2 separate regions of the Homo sapiens genome follow, and region 1 is linked to region 2. Evidence: fine-mapped expression QTL. A gene starts in region 2. The other region holds a variant in brackets. All regions are shown on one strand. Distances are between the middles of the regions. Region 1 overlaps PTER (phosphotriesterase related). Region 2 holds the start of PTER (phosphotriesterase related).

Region 1 (8,339 bases), 75 kb before region 2:
TTAGTACAGCGTTAAGCAATTCTAAATCCTTTAAGCCATTTTCTCCTTTTGCTATGTGATACCCAGAAAGACACTTTAAAGATACTACTCAAATGACTTTACAAGTTCAGCAGTGTTAAAGAGTCTTCTTTTTTTAACATTTCAGCATTAACGTGAGACTATATCACAAGAAAATTTAATTGGAAAACTCATCATTTAAATTTTGAAAGAAATGCATGGAAATTCTTGACTTCTGTCTCATTTCTCTCATTTTGCCAAGTGATAAAATCCAGCATATTGTACCCCAAATCATGCATTATTACATAGTGCAGGTTTACAAAACCACTAAATCACTTGCTATGTTATTCAGGGAAATATCATTATAGTGGAATAGAAATGAAACAAGCCACAAAGTAGAAGATGTTTTACTGAAATAAATCAAATCTAAGTCTGCCTGTTGAAAGATTTTCCAAGGCAGAATCACAATATATCTAAATGAATATGAAGCCTAATTTGAGCTAAGGATCTGACAGAATGTCCACAATGCATGAGATGATAGGCAATTTGACTGTTTGTAAATGTCTATCAACTCACTAATGAGATCACAGGCTTACCATGGGCAGATTATAAGCAGCCTCTGCCCTCAAATCAAGCCACATATTTAGAATCTCCTAAGTGTAAGTGGATATTCAACGAAATCATTCAAAAATTCTTGAAACTTGAGAGGCCTCAGAGCATGAAAATTTAGTCCTTTCTTTAACTTTTAGATATGTTGAGGTTAAATTCTTGATTTAAATGCACATGTCATAGTTAAGTAATAAAAAGACACGATGGAAAAAAGAACTCTGAAAACTCAGGTGATATAATCAAAGATGTATAAATGAGCTAAGCTTCTGAAGCAGCCTGGTAAAGGGGGCTTTACATGAATTAGATTTGGAAAGCCCTAAATCAAAAGACTTTTTCTTTTTTTTTTTTTTCTTTGTAAGTAGTAGAGGAGTTGGTATTTTCCTGGGTATTTTTAGCTATTACATACCTCAATTTTCTAATAATTGTGGTGAACAGCTGAACTTAGACTTGAACTTCTGTACTCATAAACAGCTGATTAGAATATTGCTATCTGGCTTAAATTAAAATGCAAAAAATACTATTAGTTTCATTTCAAAATGTGATTGGGCATAGGGATCGAAGGAGTTAGAAAAACGAGTGATACAGGAAGATAATAAATTGTATGCATAGTTTAGAATGTGTAGTTAGATAAGACTGCCAGAATGGTCCCCACTGAAGCACTATTTTGTCCCTTTCTGTCCTCCTTCTCACTAACGTAGCGGAAACTGCCACAGCACTATCCTCATAAAGCTCTGAGGTCAACATGGACTTTGCTATGCTAAATTCTGTACTATGGCAGCAAGTCAGCTTGTGATGCTACATGAATGGCAAAAAAGAAAACTTGAGAATTCTCATTTACGCATCCTAATTCTTGTCTGTTTCACATAGGTGCGTGCTAGTGCAATTGCCCAAGATGCTGATCAGAATTACGACTATGCCAGTAACAGTGTGGTTCTTCATTTGGAGCCGGGAGATGAAGTCTATATCAAATTAGATGGCGGGAAAGCCCATGGAGGAAACAACAACAAATACAGCACGTTTTCTGGATTTATTATTTATGCTGACTGATAATGCAGAAACTAAGCTTATTATTCTGAGTTTGAACACTGGATTCGTATGGCTAACGTCAGTGAATCAAGGATCCCAGGGGATGCCAATGGCAGGGCACCTCAGTTGTGTATATGTGGGGAAATCAAATGCTACCTGACTCACATCTGTATCACTCAGAAACATTATGTAAAAAATATCAAAGCAAGATAAGCAGATGTGTGATCCACTACCGCCAAAGCAAATACTCCTTATCGTTAGTGTCCATGTGAATGAAGTCCTATATAGATCACAAATTTTTATAGACAAATCTAAGACATTGAATTATTTCTTCTATATATATGATACTTTGGTGTACTGTGATCTTGCTGCTTTTATCCATATGTCAGCTTTGGTTCTTGTGAGTTTACCTGCTTATTATGATACTTGGAGTCCATTCATAGTGTGGGGAAGAATGATTTTTGCCCTGCAGGAGAAGGTCTAATTGAAATAATGCTGCTTGTCCCCAAAGAAATTGTTTGCCTTGTACTCTTGTTAACCTTAGAGCTAGACCTGGGAATGATTCAACTTCAAGCCTTAACCTGGAATTTTCTGGATTTGAGGGAATTCCCAAGCCTATGATCTTTTTCACATTTTCTTTTTCTTATATGAATTTTCTTTTCTCTCTTTTCTGGTGATAGTCTTTAAAAATAGAGATTGACAGTGTATCATAGGATTACCCTCTAAGTGTGAAAATGTGTAATTATGTACGGTATTTAGAAAAAGCCCTTATGTGTCCATTTTGTCAACTGAATACATTTAGATTCACTGGGAAAGTCAGAGAAATTTATTCTTTAGTATCAAATCAAACCGAGGCTTTTGCCATCTTTGGAAGAAAAGATTATTCATAACCCAATGCACAAAGGTTTAATTTGAGCTGCTGCATACGTCACCAAGGGGACACTAGGTGAGGCCTTCAAATGATTACTACAAGTCTGTGGCCTGAGGTTATTTTAAAATTAACAATTTCGCATATAGCCTATATGACAACAGAGTGTTTATATTTTATACAAATATCTGCTAAACATGCACACATATACTCACACACACATATATATATTAGATGAAATGTTTTATTTATGTATAAAACATATACATATAAAACATTTATATATATGGCTTTATTCCACAGGGCACAGTGGCTGTATAGCCTCAAAATTTTAATATAAAAAAGTGTATGCATATATACACACACAAACATGCACAAATTATTTAACTTATTTTGGGTTAAAATATATTTTGAATGACAATATATGGAGTAGCAAAAACAGTTAAAATGACTTCTCTTTAAGAGTTATCCAGAAAATTAATTGTATTAGGTCAAAATGCCCTTTATTTCACAGGTCTGTAAGTTAAGGCTATGGTTGCTCTATTACCATATGCCAATCAATACTTTAACTGCATTCTGTGACAGACTGTTAATATGAGGACTGCAGACACCAAGTGGCTCTCCTTTGCAGTGTTTATGAATTACATGCATTTGAGCTATCAATTTTTTTTTCTTTTTTCTCAGGTGGAGTGAAGCTGACAGTACAGTAGATTTGGAGAGTAATACAAATCCTTTCTTTCTGGTTAGAACACACTGCCAAAAGCCATCTCTTTCATCTAAGGAAAAGATTAAAAATGCATGTTGATATCTCCTAACTATCACACAACTTCCACTATTACAATGAAAAATCTGTTCCCCTTTCATTGCCTCTGAAAACTCTTTGACGAGTAGATTTCAAAAACAGAGATTTTAAAAATTTGCTTGCTTTACTGGTGAAGGACATTTGCATTTTTTTTTTTTATTTATTTAAAGGAATTAGTTTGTTCTCCTGGCTCATTCCTCTTTGTTACTTTCTGTTCCAATACACAGAAAGCTTGATCATCTTTGATCAGCAGAAATATCTTTTATTTAGCAAAGCTCAACTTCCCAAGAGTTATGCATGGTGTGCCTATCTGAAGGTGGTGTTAGCTCTGTTGAAATGCCTGGGTCTGAGTAACTGTCATGATTTTTATGATTAAAAACAGACTCTTCATCAAGAATAATGACTAATTCTAATTGGTCTTTGTGATATGTAAGATAACTCATAAATGAATTGCAATGGATTTTATTTCGAATTAACTATATATTTATCAAAGAGGAACTGGCAGCAAGGGTTTGGAGAATATTTTTAGGTACCAAATAGCATAGTGAGGATTCAACCAAAAGATGAATTTATAAGCAGCAGTGCCCATCACCTAAGTGTTTTAACTAACAGGTTTTAAAAAC[A/G]TTTTATTTACACAAAATATCAGGGCTGGATACCTTTTAAAGAGGAGGCTCAAGTATCGGGCTGTCATTTCCAATAGATCTGACCTTTTCTTCAGATACATAAGCATTATTTTCTCTGTTTAGGTCCAAGGAAAAACAAAAGGTAAAGGAAATAAAGGGAATATACATAAGGCAAACATTTCTCTTTTTTTTTTTGCATTATATCTTACCAATTAATTAAATTGTGGCCTTTGTTATTATAAATGTAATGATTCATTAAACTATATTATGTAATATATTTTGACTTTTATGATTGAATTTTTATAATTCAGTAGTGTTATGTGTTCTTATACAAACTTTGCAAAACAGCAAAATGTATGGCAAAAATAGATACCGGAAAGCCAAAGATATCAAAATCATTTCAGTAGAAGAATATATAGATAGGTGGACAGTATAAAATTAACCTTTCAAAATATTTTTATCATTGTGAATTGGTAATTGTATTACAGTCAGTATCCTTTGGGGAAAAAAGTCTCAAAATTTAACTTCCCTTGTTGCAGAAGCTATTTTACAGTGCCATATTATTCATTAAGCATTAATTAAAGAACAGCAGGATAATTAGTAGGATCATCAATATTACAAGAAACATTAGATCGCTCAAGAAGGAAATAATTTAACTAGAAACACTTTAAATTTTCTCAAGTAGTGCAGCTGATAGATTAGGGAGAAAAACAACAACTCCGCTTAGGGGATATAGACTTTAAATCATTGTTTAGAAATAGGTACTTCTGTATTTATTTTGTTAAGTTAAAATAATAGGGCTCAATTAGGCTGAGTAACTCCCTAGAGGCACAGTTGTAATAGCTGGTCTCAGAGAAGGCAAACCCTCCTAGTTCTCATCAGAAGGAAATGATCTGTCATTAGTCCTAGGTAACTGATTAATATCTCACAGTGGACTGGAAATCGCTGAATGTTCTCTGCAAGTTTTATACTCAAGGTGTGAATTCATAAGCAACCATCCTATTTGAAAGTTAGCCATTGCTTAGGGTTCTCTATTAGAATCTTATCAAGCACATTCTCAGTTATGCCTCTCAGCAACATTTTAGGAACAACATTGGTGAGTATATGAGAATAGCCGTGACCTCCATATTTCATCAGCCGGGTTTTCGTATGTATGTCATGTGCTACCAGAATTCGATCTTCACAGCCCTCTTCCACCAGGAGACGCACCCTGTGAAAAATGTTAACTCATTAGATGTCATTTGTCTTTCATTTTCGCTTTTCAGGATGCTTTCAACTTTTTACTCATTAACCTATTGTGCTTGTCGTAAAGATACTGACTTCTACTGTGGCGTGTGTACTGAGAGACCTTTAATAAATATTGTGTGGTGACGATAAAAATATTGCTGCATCCTAGCAGGAACATATCCTTATTCCATGCATACAGAAATTTCTAACCTGTGACATTTATGACCATGCCTGGCAATACCGCATTAAAGATAGCTTCTAATAGGATGTGCCAGTTTGGATGAATGACCATTTTGGCATTTCACTAAATAACTTTGTTCTGGATTTGTATTCAGCAATCCTCTCTCAAATGCCTCTCCCTGTGGGCCCATTTTTCAGATCTCATTCTTGCTCTCTCCTTTTATCTGGCCAAAAAATATCAAGGACTGTTTGCGATTAAAATAGGGAAACAAAAGGAATCTCACTACAAGTAAAATATTCTGAGAGCAAAATCAGTTGGTCTGCAAGTGAGGGGCATTTGATAAGCTACAAAGCCACTGAAAAAAGGTTGGTCAGCATTTTAACCATTTGCCCCTTTGAAGTCTATGGCAATTTTGATTTAGTTGTAGCCTCTGAGCATTGGATTAAACTGACCAATACAAATATATTCTGTCTTCTTTCCATGTCAGCAAGATTGCTAAAATAATAAGCTGTTCCTTTAAATTTATAGTCAGTGGACTAAAGAACAGCTTCCTGACTATTCTCTAAAAATGAAATCCTCTTTGCTTTGTTAAATGCTGGAATCTGTAGTGTGAGTCACCTCCTGACAGCCACCATCTGTACGTGTCTGGACTCTGGGCAGTGTCTGTCGTGACTTCCATGGGTCTTTGATGGTAGAAGATGCCACTCACAGACAATGGCTCTTCTATGGGATTCTCTGAATAGTTTTTTTGGCGTCTAGATTCTAAAGTGGATCTAGACGGACGGACAGTGCCTTCCTCCAGAGGCTGATTATTTGAAAGGTATCTTTTTTGTTTCAAAAGCATTTCTTGGTGTCCTAGTACATGAGTCATATTTAATAACTACTACAGTGAGCAAAACGTGGGGTACTACACACACAAAAAAAACTCAAGCACAAAGCCCTGCCCTCTGAGAACACATATTTTAAAATAAATTATAATGGAAGAATAGACTTTGTATCTGCAGGTCAAAGGAATGCAAGCACTAGCAGAGAAGAACCATGCCTGTCCTATAAGTGCATGTAATGACTTTTGTGCCACTATGATTTTTTGCCTCATTGAAATTTGTATACTATCCTGAAGTTCTGATCTGCAGTTACTTTTGGAACACACTCAGTTTAGGGGAATTATCTAAGATAAGTTATATTATCACATAAAAAGACAAAGATTTGACAGAATGCACACACAATACTGAAGCTTAGGGTGACAAACCTTGATCCACAACTGCAAAGAAGTATCACGGTATAGGAGGTTTTAGGAAACACTTTCTCCCTGATATTTTCTGGGCATTTTCCAAAATTTTTGCCTATGTTTCTTATCTGATAAATATAATTTCTCACACTATAAAGGCAGATCATGTGGATAAACAAATTCCTTTAAGATGTCCTTTGTCAGACCTTGAAACACAATGTTATCAAATCATGAAGTAGAATGAAAGAGTATAGAGGACAAGATACTCATACTTAAAACCGGGAATCCTTAGAACCCATTAAGTCAAGAATCTGGAGACTACTTATGAGAAAGATAACGTTATGGCTCTGGACACACAATCATATCCTGACTATGAAGAAAACCTGCCCCGTCCTGCTTACACTAAAAGATCATCTCTCCTGTTGTGCCATTATATGGAAGAACAGGAGTTACAGAGATGCTGCCAGAAAAGGGGGAGCCACTACAGACGAGAAGACAAAAAATCACGGTAATTATAGAAATACAAATGAGTTAGTGTTTGCAAACAAATATTAGAGAGAGACTACAAAGTGTGAAAAGGCAGAGATATAATAAGATTTGAGAAATGGAGCAGAAGATTGAAAACAGGTGTTAGACACAGAATTTCTGGTGCTGAACACCAGAGGTAGGCAGAAGCGTGCTTCTGTGTTCATGCACTTCAAGGTTTAAGACTACGATGGCTCAGAAAAGGACCCTGTGGTCCTTTCATGCATGATGAAAATCAAGTGTGCAAGACAGTGGGTACTGGAGCACACGCAACCCAAAAGGGCATTCAGTGCTTAACATGGGCTGTCCTTGGGTCAAGCGAGAATGCATGGTTTAATTTAAGGAAGATTAAGCACACACACATACACGTACGTATGGAATAGCACACAGGTATTTTATATATATATACACAGATTTATATTATAATAATTTTTATTATTTCCATACATCCAGAATAGCTATATTTAGCACAGTAAAGGGTAAACAAATGGCTAAAAGGAGCTAAGAAGGAATGCTGGGGGAGCCATCGGTCATCTGACCCTTCTATCTCCTTCACAGATGCCCCTTTACGGATCTTCTTTCTCTTGTTCTAGAAGGTCTGGGAGCCTCATGCGAGACACAGGTGTGCAAAAGATGCACCTCACTACCACAAAGGGGCTTCGGAAAAGGAAGCCGATCCAGAGTGCAAAGTTCCCATTTCCAAGATGATTTAGAAAACATGTGTTGAGGCCGGGCGCGGTGGCTCACACATGTAATCCCAGCACTTTAGGAGGCCGAGGCGGGCGGATCACGAGGTCAGGAGATCAAGACCATCCTGGCTAACACGGTGAAACCCCGTCTCTACTAAAAATACAAAAAATTAGCCGGGCGTGGTGGCGGGTGCCTGTAGTCCCAGCTACTCGGGAGGCTGAGGTAGGAGAATGGCGTGAACCTGGGAGGCAGAGCTTGCAGTGAGGTGAGATTGCGCCACTGCGCTCCTGCCTGGGCGACAGAGCAAGTCTCCATCTCAAAAAAAAAAAAAAAAGAAAAAGAAAAAAAGAAAAAAGAAATAAAACATATGTTGAGGGCATTGATCAGGAAATCATGTTTTTGAGATTGTGAAAGATGAGAATGACTGAATGCACTGCACTATTTTAAATTCCAGATGCCCTTAGGCAAGGAATAGTCTCCTCTGAGTATAAACTAACTACTAGGGCTTTAGGGGAACAGGTTCACCTGTATTGAATCGGGTTCCTGGGCAAGTAAATTAAAAT
Region 2 (8,339 bases):
AGCACAGCTCTGTCCAAAGCACAATGCTCCCGGCTTGCCTTCTGTTTAACTCAGAATAAAAGAGTGAACACACTGCCCCTAGGACATTAACAGCAAAACCTAAGTCTGATACTCTTAGATCCGAAATCAGATAGCCAGGAAATCATATTTAAAATACTCTTTGAAGCTGCCTGAAAAAAAACGTATTAGTCAATGGTAAGTACGGATGATTCATTTCAAATGTCCTTCAGTGACAAAATAATTTCTGAAATGTATCCACTGATAACTGCATTTGGGAAGAATCATCTTTTCACAACTCACCCACGAACATTCCTCTGTATTGGAAAACTTGGAAGTGCACTGAAAATTGTTAAAAATATATAAATTGTGTTTTTCAAAGTAAAAATGAAAGCCTTGATTCTTATCCCTTCCAGGCATACAGCCTTTACCTATTTTACACTTTAACATGGTCTGCCCTTACAGAATGCAATTAAACATCTAAACGCCATTTTTGCCACTCTTGATTAAAATCACAAAGCAGACTGGAGCATGATGGGAACAGCACACCTGCCATCTCCCACACAGTAAAAGGAGCATGATTCATAGGACAAGCCTCTTTCAGGGCCCTCCCCACAGCTCCCAAGGTATCTGGTAAACCAGAGCCAGAAATCCCCGCATACATGCAGCTTATCTGATAATATTCATTACGCAGGCTTGACCAGGCTAGGCCACAGTAACACTCAAATCCCCGAATCTCAGGGTCTGACCACAACAAAAGTTTATTTCTAGCTCATCGAATACGTCTAACACAGGAAGGCAGGGGGCTCCGCTCACTGTCCTCTATGACCCAGGCTGAGACCACTGCCTCTATCTGGATGGTCACTGCGGCAGAGGGAAAGTGATTGTGACAAATCTTTCACTGGCTTTTAACACAGTTTTACCTGGAAGTGACACAGGTCACTCCACTTGCGTTTCGTTAGCCAAACAAGTCACGTGGACATACCTGCCTGGAAGGAGACAGGGAAATGGCTAACATTCACAGCTCTCACGCTGAGCAGGCACAGAGGTATTTGTACTCAGGTGGTTATTGTTTTGACAAAATAGGTACAACCACAGAGCCAGTTTATGCCAAATGGAACCAGATATTTTATTTTTCTTATTCTTTTTTCTTTTTCTTTTTTTTAAGAGATGATGTCTATGAATGAGAAGCCTTTTGTTATAAAAGTGTTATTAAGGGCCGGGCGTGGTGGCTCATGCCGGGAGGCTGAGGCAGGTGGATCACCTGAGGTCAGGAGTTCAAGAGCAGCCTGATCAACATGATGAAACCCCGTCTCTACCAAAAATACAAAAAAATTAGCTGGGCGTGGTGGTGCATGCCTATATTTCCAGCTAGTTGGGAGGCTGATGCAGGAGAATCACTTAAACCTGGGAGGCAGAGGTTGCAGTGAGTCAAGATAGGGCCACTGCACTCCAGTCTGGGCAATAGAGTGAGACCCTGCCACAAAAAAAAAAAAAAAATCTTGTTAGGAAAACCTGGACCACTGAAAATACACTAGAAACAACAGCTAAAGAAAACAGAACAAAGCCACATTTGATGTATGAAAATATATTCAACAACTACCTCAGTCAAGTTCATAGGGATACTGAGCAGACTCGAGCTTGATCAGAAATTCTCAATATTATTACTATATGGCTTACTAGGGCATTTAATAGATTTGAAGTTGGCTGGCTGCCGTGGCTCACGCCTGTAATCTCAACAGTTTGGGAGGCCGAGGTGGGAAGATCACTTGAGCCCAGGAGTTTAAGACCAGCCTGGGCAACAAAACAAGACCCCCCATCTCTACAAAAATAAATAAACTAATAAATATTTTAAAAAGAAGATATTTAAGGATAAACATTCCTCCTGTATGAATGGGTCCTGTATGTATGTATGTCCTGTATGAACACTTTGCACATGGAAGCAAAGGTGGACATTTACCAAGCTCCTCTCATGCTATACAGTTCATCATTTTGTCTTTAAGCTTAAAACTGAGACAATCTCTAAAATTCTTGCATCAGGGCTGCTTACTCAACTTAAAATAGTCACAGGGATCCTATGGCCAAGTCCTGGCACTGAGTACACGGTCATGTACTTCTCCAGATTCTAAATGATCTATTTTTGTGTTCTCTTACTCTCTGCTTCTATTTGGCTCAAAATTTACTGACACTTCAAAGGATATTAAATTGCATTTTTTTTCAGAAATGCTTCTCACTTTAGCCATATTGAAGGTATTTTCTGTCCTTCACAGGGAAGGGGAAATTTGCCCAGTGAAACTGATCTTTCCCTAAGTCCCTCCAGAAAAGCCACTGTCCTGATTTTCCTCCTGTCTCACTAGCCACCTTCTGGCTGGATACTCCGCTACTGACCTCCAAAATACACATTTATTGATCTTTGATTGAATAAACAGACCCTTCCTGACTACCTTGTAATTTCAGCAGCAAATATGACCCAAAACTGGAAGACCCTCTCAATCTATTCTGGTTTGAGGGCTGCCCAATTAAAAAGGAAAAAAACTGGCCCAAAATATCATTAAATGGTAAAATCAGGATCTTATCCTCATAAATCCATAGATTATTACATCCACTAGCGACCTAGAGACCACTTACCTTTTTTTTTTTTTTTTTTGAGACAGAGTCTTGCTCTGACACCCAGGCTGGAGTGCAGTGGTGTGATCTCAGCTCACAGCCGCCTCTGCCTCCCAGGTTCAAGCAATTCTCGTGCCTCAGCCTCTCCAGTAGCTGGGATTACAGGCATGCCCACCACCATGCCCAGCTAATTTTTTGAAGAAAAGAGGTTTCACATGTTGGCCAGGCTGGTCTCGAACTCCTGGCCTCAAGTGATCCACCTGCCTCAGCCTCCCAAAGTGCCGGGATTACAGGTGTGAGCCACCGCGCCTGGCCTGAGACCACTCACCTTAATGTGTCTAGAAAACAGGCAGGCCAGGCGCAGTGGCTCACGCCTGTAATCCTAGCACTTTGGGAGGCCGAGGCAGCCAGATCATTTGAGCCCAGGAGTTTGACACCAACCTGGACAAAATGGCAAAACCCCGTCTCTACCAAAAATACAAAAAAAAAAACAAAAAACAGAAAATAAAAACTAGCCGGGCGTGGTGGTGTGCACCTGTGGGAGACTGAGCTGGGAGGATCACTTGAACGGGGGAAGTGAAGGTTGCAGTGAGCTGTGATAGCACCACTGCACTCCAGCTTTGGTGAAATAATGAGACCTAGTCTTAAAAAGCAAGAGGCCGGGCGCGGTGGCTTACGCCTGTAATCCCAGCACTTTAGGAGGCCGAGGTGGGTGAATCACAAGGTCAGGAGTTCGAGATCAGCCTGGCCAGTATGGTGAAACCCCGTCTCTACTAAAAATACAAAAATTAGCTGTGTGTGGTGGAGCGCGCCTGTAGTCCCAGCCACTCAGAAGGCTGAGGCAAGAGAATCGCTTGATCCCGGGAGGCGGAGGTTGCAGTGAGCCGAGATCGCACCACTGCACTCCAGCCTGGGCAAGGGCGAGACTCTGTCTTTAAAAAAAGCAAAAGAAAACCAACTTGTAGAAAGTCACTGAGCTGGAACCAGAACTAGAATAGGGCTCTACTCTTTCTGGGTCCAAAGTTCTTTAAATCAGCAACCCCTCTTACTGCCTATGTAAGGGTATACCTTTAGTTCCTGTTGACTTGGGATGTACAAAGAATGAGGTAGTCTAAGAGAGTAACAGCACACTGGCTGTGGAGTCAGAAAGACTCCACCTCTAAACTTTGTTTCCATCTCTAAACTTTCCAGCAGTGTGGCCTAATTTTTCTGTACCTTAGCTTTGTCGTTATCACTAGAATCCTTCACAGGGCTGCAGAGTGGATTAAGCAAGAGTGCACAGGACTCAGACATATGACCGCTGGTAATTGGCTTTTATAAACTGTCAAAAAATATAGACCTGTAATGCCAGCACTTTGGGAGGCCGAGGCAGCAGACTGATTGAGCCCAGGAGTTCGAAACCAGCCTGGGCAACATGGCGAGACACTCTCTACAAAAAATACAAAAATAACCGGACATGGTGGCACGTGCCTGTAGTCGCAGCTACTCAGGAAGCTCAGGAGGCTGAGGCAGGAAGTTCGCTTGAGCTCAGGAGGTCGAGGCTGCAGTGAGCTGTGATCGCGCCAAATGCACTCTAGCCTGGGAAGCAGAGCCAGACCCTGAATCTAAAAAAAAAAAAAAAAAAAAGCTTATTAAAGGAGGCTTAGCACAGCTACCCGATGACGCCCCCGGGCATTGCTGTCGAGCCACAGGGAGCTGGCGCCACACGGGACTGGCGCTCTTTGCAACGTCCCTCAAGCACTTAAGGAGAGGCGGCAGGGCCCAAGCGCAGCGGCTAGAAAATCCTTCCTTCCGGCAGGACCCTCGCGTGGAGCTCTGCAGCGAACCCTGGCCGCGCGGCCTCCGCCGTCGGGCCCCACTCTTCCTACTGGGCCCACAGTTCCGGCTCCTGCTCTGACTCCAAGAAGCCTTACCTCGGGTACAACGCGCTGCCTTCTCCCTGGGAACTTCCGGCAGGCCAACTTCCCTGGCCTTTTTAGTCTCCCCTGTGCCCTCCCACTTCGCCCTCTGGTTCTCTCCCCGCCCCTGGCCCGAGGTCACGCCCTCACCGAGTCCTAGGACACGCCCCGTGGGTCCTTGCCAAGCCCTACCTCTTCGTAGGACACGCCCTTCAAACCCTTGCCACGCCCCACCCTGGTCCGGGGCCGTTCCCCGCGTTTTTGCCTGGCCACACCCTCCTGCAGGCGCTGTCTGACTGTCGGTAGTTTGGCTGAATGAAAAAAATTCGGGGCTAGATCCCCAAACGGAAAGAAACTGTTGCATTTTCCCCAGATCCCAGTTCTCCATAGAACAGTCTGGAACAAGGGAGCATTCCGTAGCTCTTTTGGTTTTCCCCAAGAATAAATCGGAGGTGGTGCTCTGGCAATTTGATGTCACAGTGGGTTCTGGATCCTCATGCTGCATACGGAGAACTTTGGTTTTTGTGTTCCCACTTGTCACTGTTTCCTGCCCCGGTGCCGCGTTTCCTTCTCTTTAGAATTAGAGTGCCGTGCTAGAGCACTTGAACTGGCCCTGGTACTTGCTGTGACTGAAATAAACTTAGTATGTGTGAGTCTGTTGGCAAAACATGATGCTTGGAGCAGCTGCCACAGTAAAGAGTCATACCTTTAGGTATTGTAGGGGGCCAAGGGCAAACCTCTCCTTCGTCCTCTGAAAGTTTGCTGAAAATCAACTGACAAAAGACAGTTTCACAGTAGAAAAGGCATACAAATATACTAGATCGTAACTTTATGTGATCCGGGAGCCTTCAGAATGAAAACCCAAAGATGCAGGGGAAACGGTCCATTTTTTCGCTTAGGTTCAATAAAGTATGGACCGCCATGTATTCAGCTGGTGCAAAAGTAATTGCGGTTTTTAATGGCAAAAACCGCAATTACTTCTGCACCAACCTAAGAGATACTACGATGGCATAAAAAGGGTCTGAGCTAATGCCAATAGACTAAGTGAGCAAGCCCTGTCTGTTTAGATTCTTTTTGGCTTTTCTGTGCAGTGTTCCTTCCTTCTGGGTATAGAGCAGGATCCTTTCTGGAATGGGGGTCTTATGACCTACAGTCAAACAAAGCAGGGCAGAGAATTTCTTTACCGCCAGTTTTGACACAGAAAGGCAGGGGACACGCAGAGTCAAACTTTTAGGTTTTATGCTTGGCTTTGGGGATGAGGGGTTCTGGCTTCTGTGAATCACCTTGGGGAAGAGGGATTCCAGTTTCTAGAATGAGGGGCCAGAGGCAGGAGGACATGAGGTTAGAGAGAGCTGCTTCTAAGGCCTTCATTTTGGGGTATCATTTTCTGAACCCCAACCATATTACACTGTCATCAATTATTATTATTATTATTTTGAAATGGCTCTGTTGCCCAGGATGGATTTCAGTGGTGCAGTCATAGCTCACTGCAGCCTTGAACTCCTGGGCTCAAGGGATCCTCCTGCCTCAGCCTCCTGAGCAGCTGGGACTACAGGTGTGCACCACCACACTCAGCTAATATTTGTAATTTTTGTAGAGATGGAGGTCTCGCTATGATGCCCAGCCTGGTCTCAAACTCCTAAGCTCAAAGGATCCTCCCACCTCAGCCTCCCAAAGTGTTAGGACTACATGCATAAGCCACAGCACAAGGCCTAGTCAATTAATTTTATCCTGAATTCTGAGAAAAAAGAGAATAGGTATGCAGATGGGCAGAAGCTACAGATGTCATTTCAAAGGAAAGTAGAGTTTTAATAATAATATTAATAGATGATGTTTATCGGGGCCAACTCTACCAGGTTTTGTAATGGGTGTATGTTATTTTGTTTAAGATTTTGAGCAACCTGCATGTGGCAGGAGCTATTTCCCTCCAATTACAGACAAGAAAACAAACTTAGGCAAGCACCTTGTTCAAGGATAGGACTAGGGACCCAGATTAGTTGATATCAGTCACTACACTTGCCTTCTTAGTAAAGAATGGGGAATTTTTTTGGTTTGTTTGTTTGTTTGTTTTTGAGACAGAGTCTTGCTCTGTTGCCCAGGCTGGAGTGCAGTGGTGCAATCTCACCTCACTGCAGCCTCCACCTCCTGGTTTCAAGGGATTCTCCTGCCTCAGCCTCCTGAGTAGCTGGGATTACAGGCACGCCCCACCATGCTCAGCTAATTTTGTGTAATTTTAGTAGACATGAGGTTTTGCCATGCTGGCCAGGTTGGTCTCGAACTCCTGACCTCAACTGATCCACCTGCCTTGACCTCCCAAAGTGCTGGGATTACAGGCGTGAGCCACCGCACCAGGAGAGAATGGGGTGCTTTGATAGGAGATTAATAGAAATAAATTAATTCATTTAAATCAGAAAAAAAGGAGGAGAAAAGGATATACAGGTCTCGTTCTCTGTTTTTTGTTTTTTAAGGGTAAAAGTACAAGAAGTCATTTAGAAAAGGGGTTGGTTGGTAAGGGACAGTCAGGGAGAAGATACTGAGGAAAAAATTGGTTCTTAAGGAGGGTGGCTGGGTAAATCCTAGAAACAGAAAAGGGATAAAAATAGGGCCCAAGAGTAGGAAAGACAAGAATAACTGTAGGGGTTAAGAACTGCAGAGGCATGAGTGCTGGGACAGTTGGATATTAGTAGCAATGACGGGCTCACACTGAGATTCTGTAATGAGGAGATGGATCCAGGGAGGCTTCTGGAGTGATTTCAGTGCTGGCTCCCACTTTGTGTGTGCTACAAGCATGGAGCCATATAAATGTGTACCCGACAGTGGGTGGTAAGGAGAGGCTCGAAAGTCCATTATTTATAATGTTACGTATTTTAGTAGTCTATGCTGCTAGATGTTAAATGATACATGAGGTCCTTGTTAAAAAATGACTTCAGGCCAGGCGCAGTGGCTCACGCCTGTAGTCCCACCACTTTGGGAGGCCAAGGTGGGCAGATCACTTGAGGCCAGGAATTGGAGACCAGCCTGGCCAACATGGTAAAACCCCATCTCTACTAAAAATACAAAAATTAGCCGGGTGTGGTGGTGCATGCCCGTAGTCCCAGCCACTCAGGAGGCTGAGGCATGAGAATTGCTTGAACCTGGGAGGTGGAGATTGCAGTGAGCTGAGATCATGCCAGTGCACTTCAACCTAGTGACAGAGAGAGACCCTGTCTCAAAAAAAAAAAAAATTGAAAAGTAAACTTTAGTTTTTCTTTATGGAAGTTACTAAATTCTCCACTGCCCACAGTAAATCCACTGAGCAAGATTTGTGATGGATTTCAAATGCACGCTCTTATTTCTGTGGCTTTACTCCTTAAAAAGATACTAGTAAAGAGATTTTATTTCTTTTTTGAAAGAAGCAGCTACAAAGAAATTTCAAATTAATATGCAGGAGATTTATTTCAGGAACTTTCTCAAACTATTGCCTACAGGTGTGTTCAAAGAAAGGCAGAGGCCAGGTGTTGTGGCTCACGTCTGTAATCCCAACAATTTGGGAGGCCAGGGTAGCAGATCCCTTGAGGCCAGGAGTTTGAGACCAGCCTGGCCAACATGGTGAAAACCTATCTTCCCTAAAAAAACAAACAAACAAAAAAAACAGGCCAGGTGCAGTGGCTCATGCCTGTAATCCCAGCATTTTGGGAGGCCGAGACGGGTGCATCACAAGGTCAGGAGTTCCAGATCAGCCTGGCCAAGATGGTGAAACCCTGTCTCTACTAAAAAACATACACACACACACCCACACACACAAAACTAGCTAGGTGTGGTGGTGGGTGCCTGTAATCCCAGCTACTCGGGAGGCTA

What was found.
Region 1: its variant is fine-mapped to the expression of PTER in sun-exposed skin (GTEx, PIP 0.91).

The regions. Positions count from the first base shown.
Region 1 is chr10:16,507,842-16,516,180 of GRCh38, reverse strand. It overlaps PTER (phosphotriesterase related), which reads right to left. Exons shown (of 5, transcript NM_001261836.2): 5 at 2,436-5,135. The coding sequence ends at 4,925. C1QL3 (complement C1q like 3) reads left to right here. Exons shown (of 2, transcript NM_001010908.2): 2 at 1,474-2,447. The coding sequence ends at 1,653. Among named protein-coding and RNA genes, the nearest start is that of C1QL3, 9.9 kb to the left of the region's middle. The variant A/G (reference allele first, on the strand shown) is at 3,926.
Region 2 is chr10:16,433,226-16,441,564 of GRCh38, reverse strand. PTER (phosphotriesterase related) reads right to left here and starts at 4,555. Exons shown (of 5, transcript NM_001261836.2): 1 at 4,518-4,555. RefSeq lists enhancers at 3,961-4,010, 4,031-4,210 and a silencer at 4,631-4,680.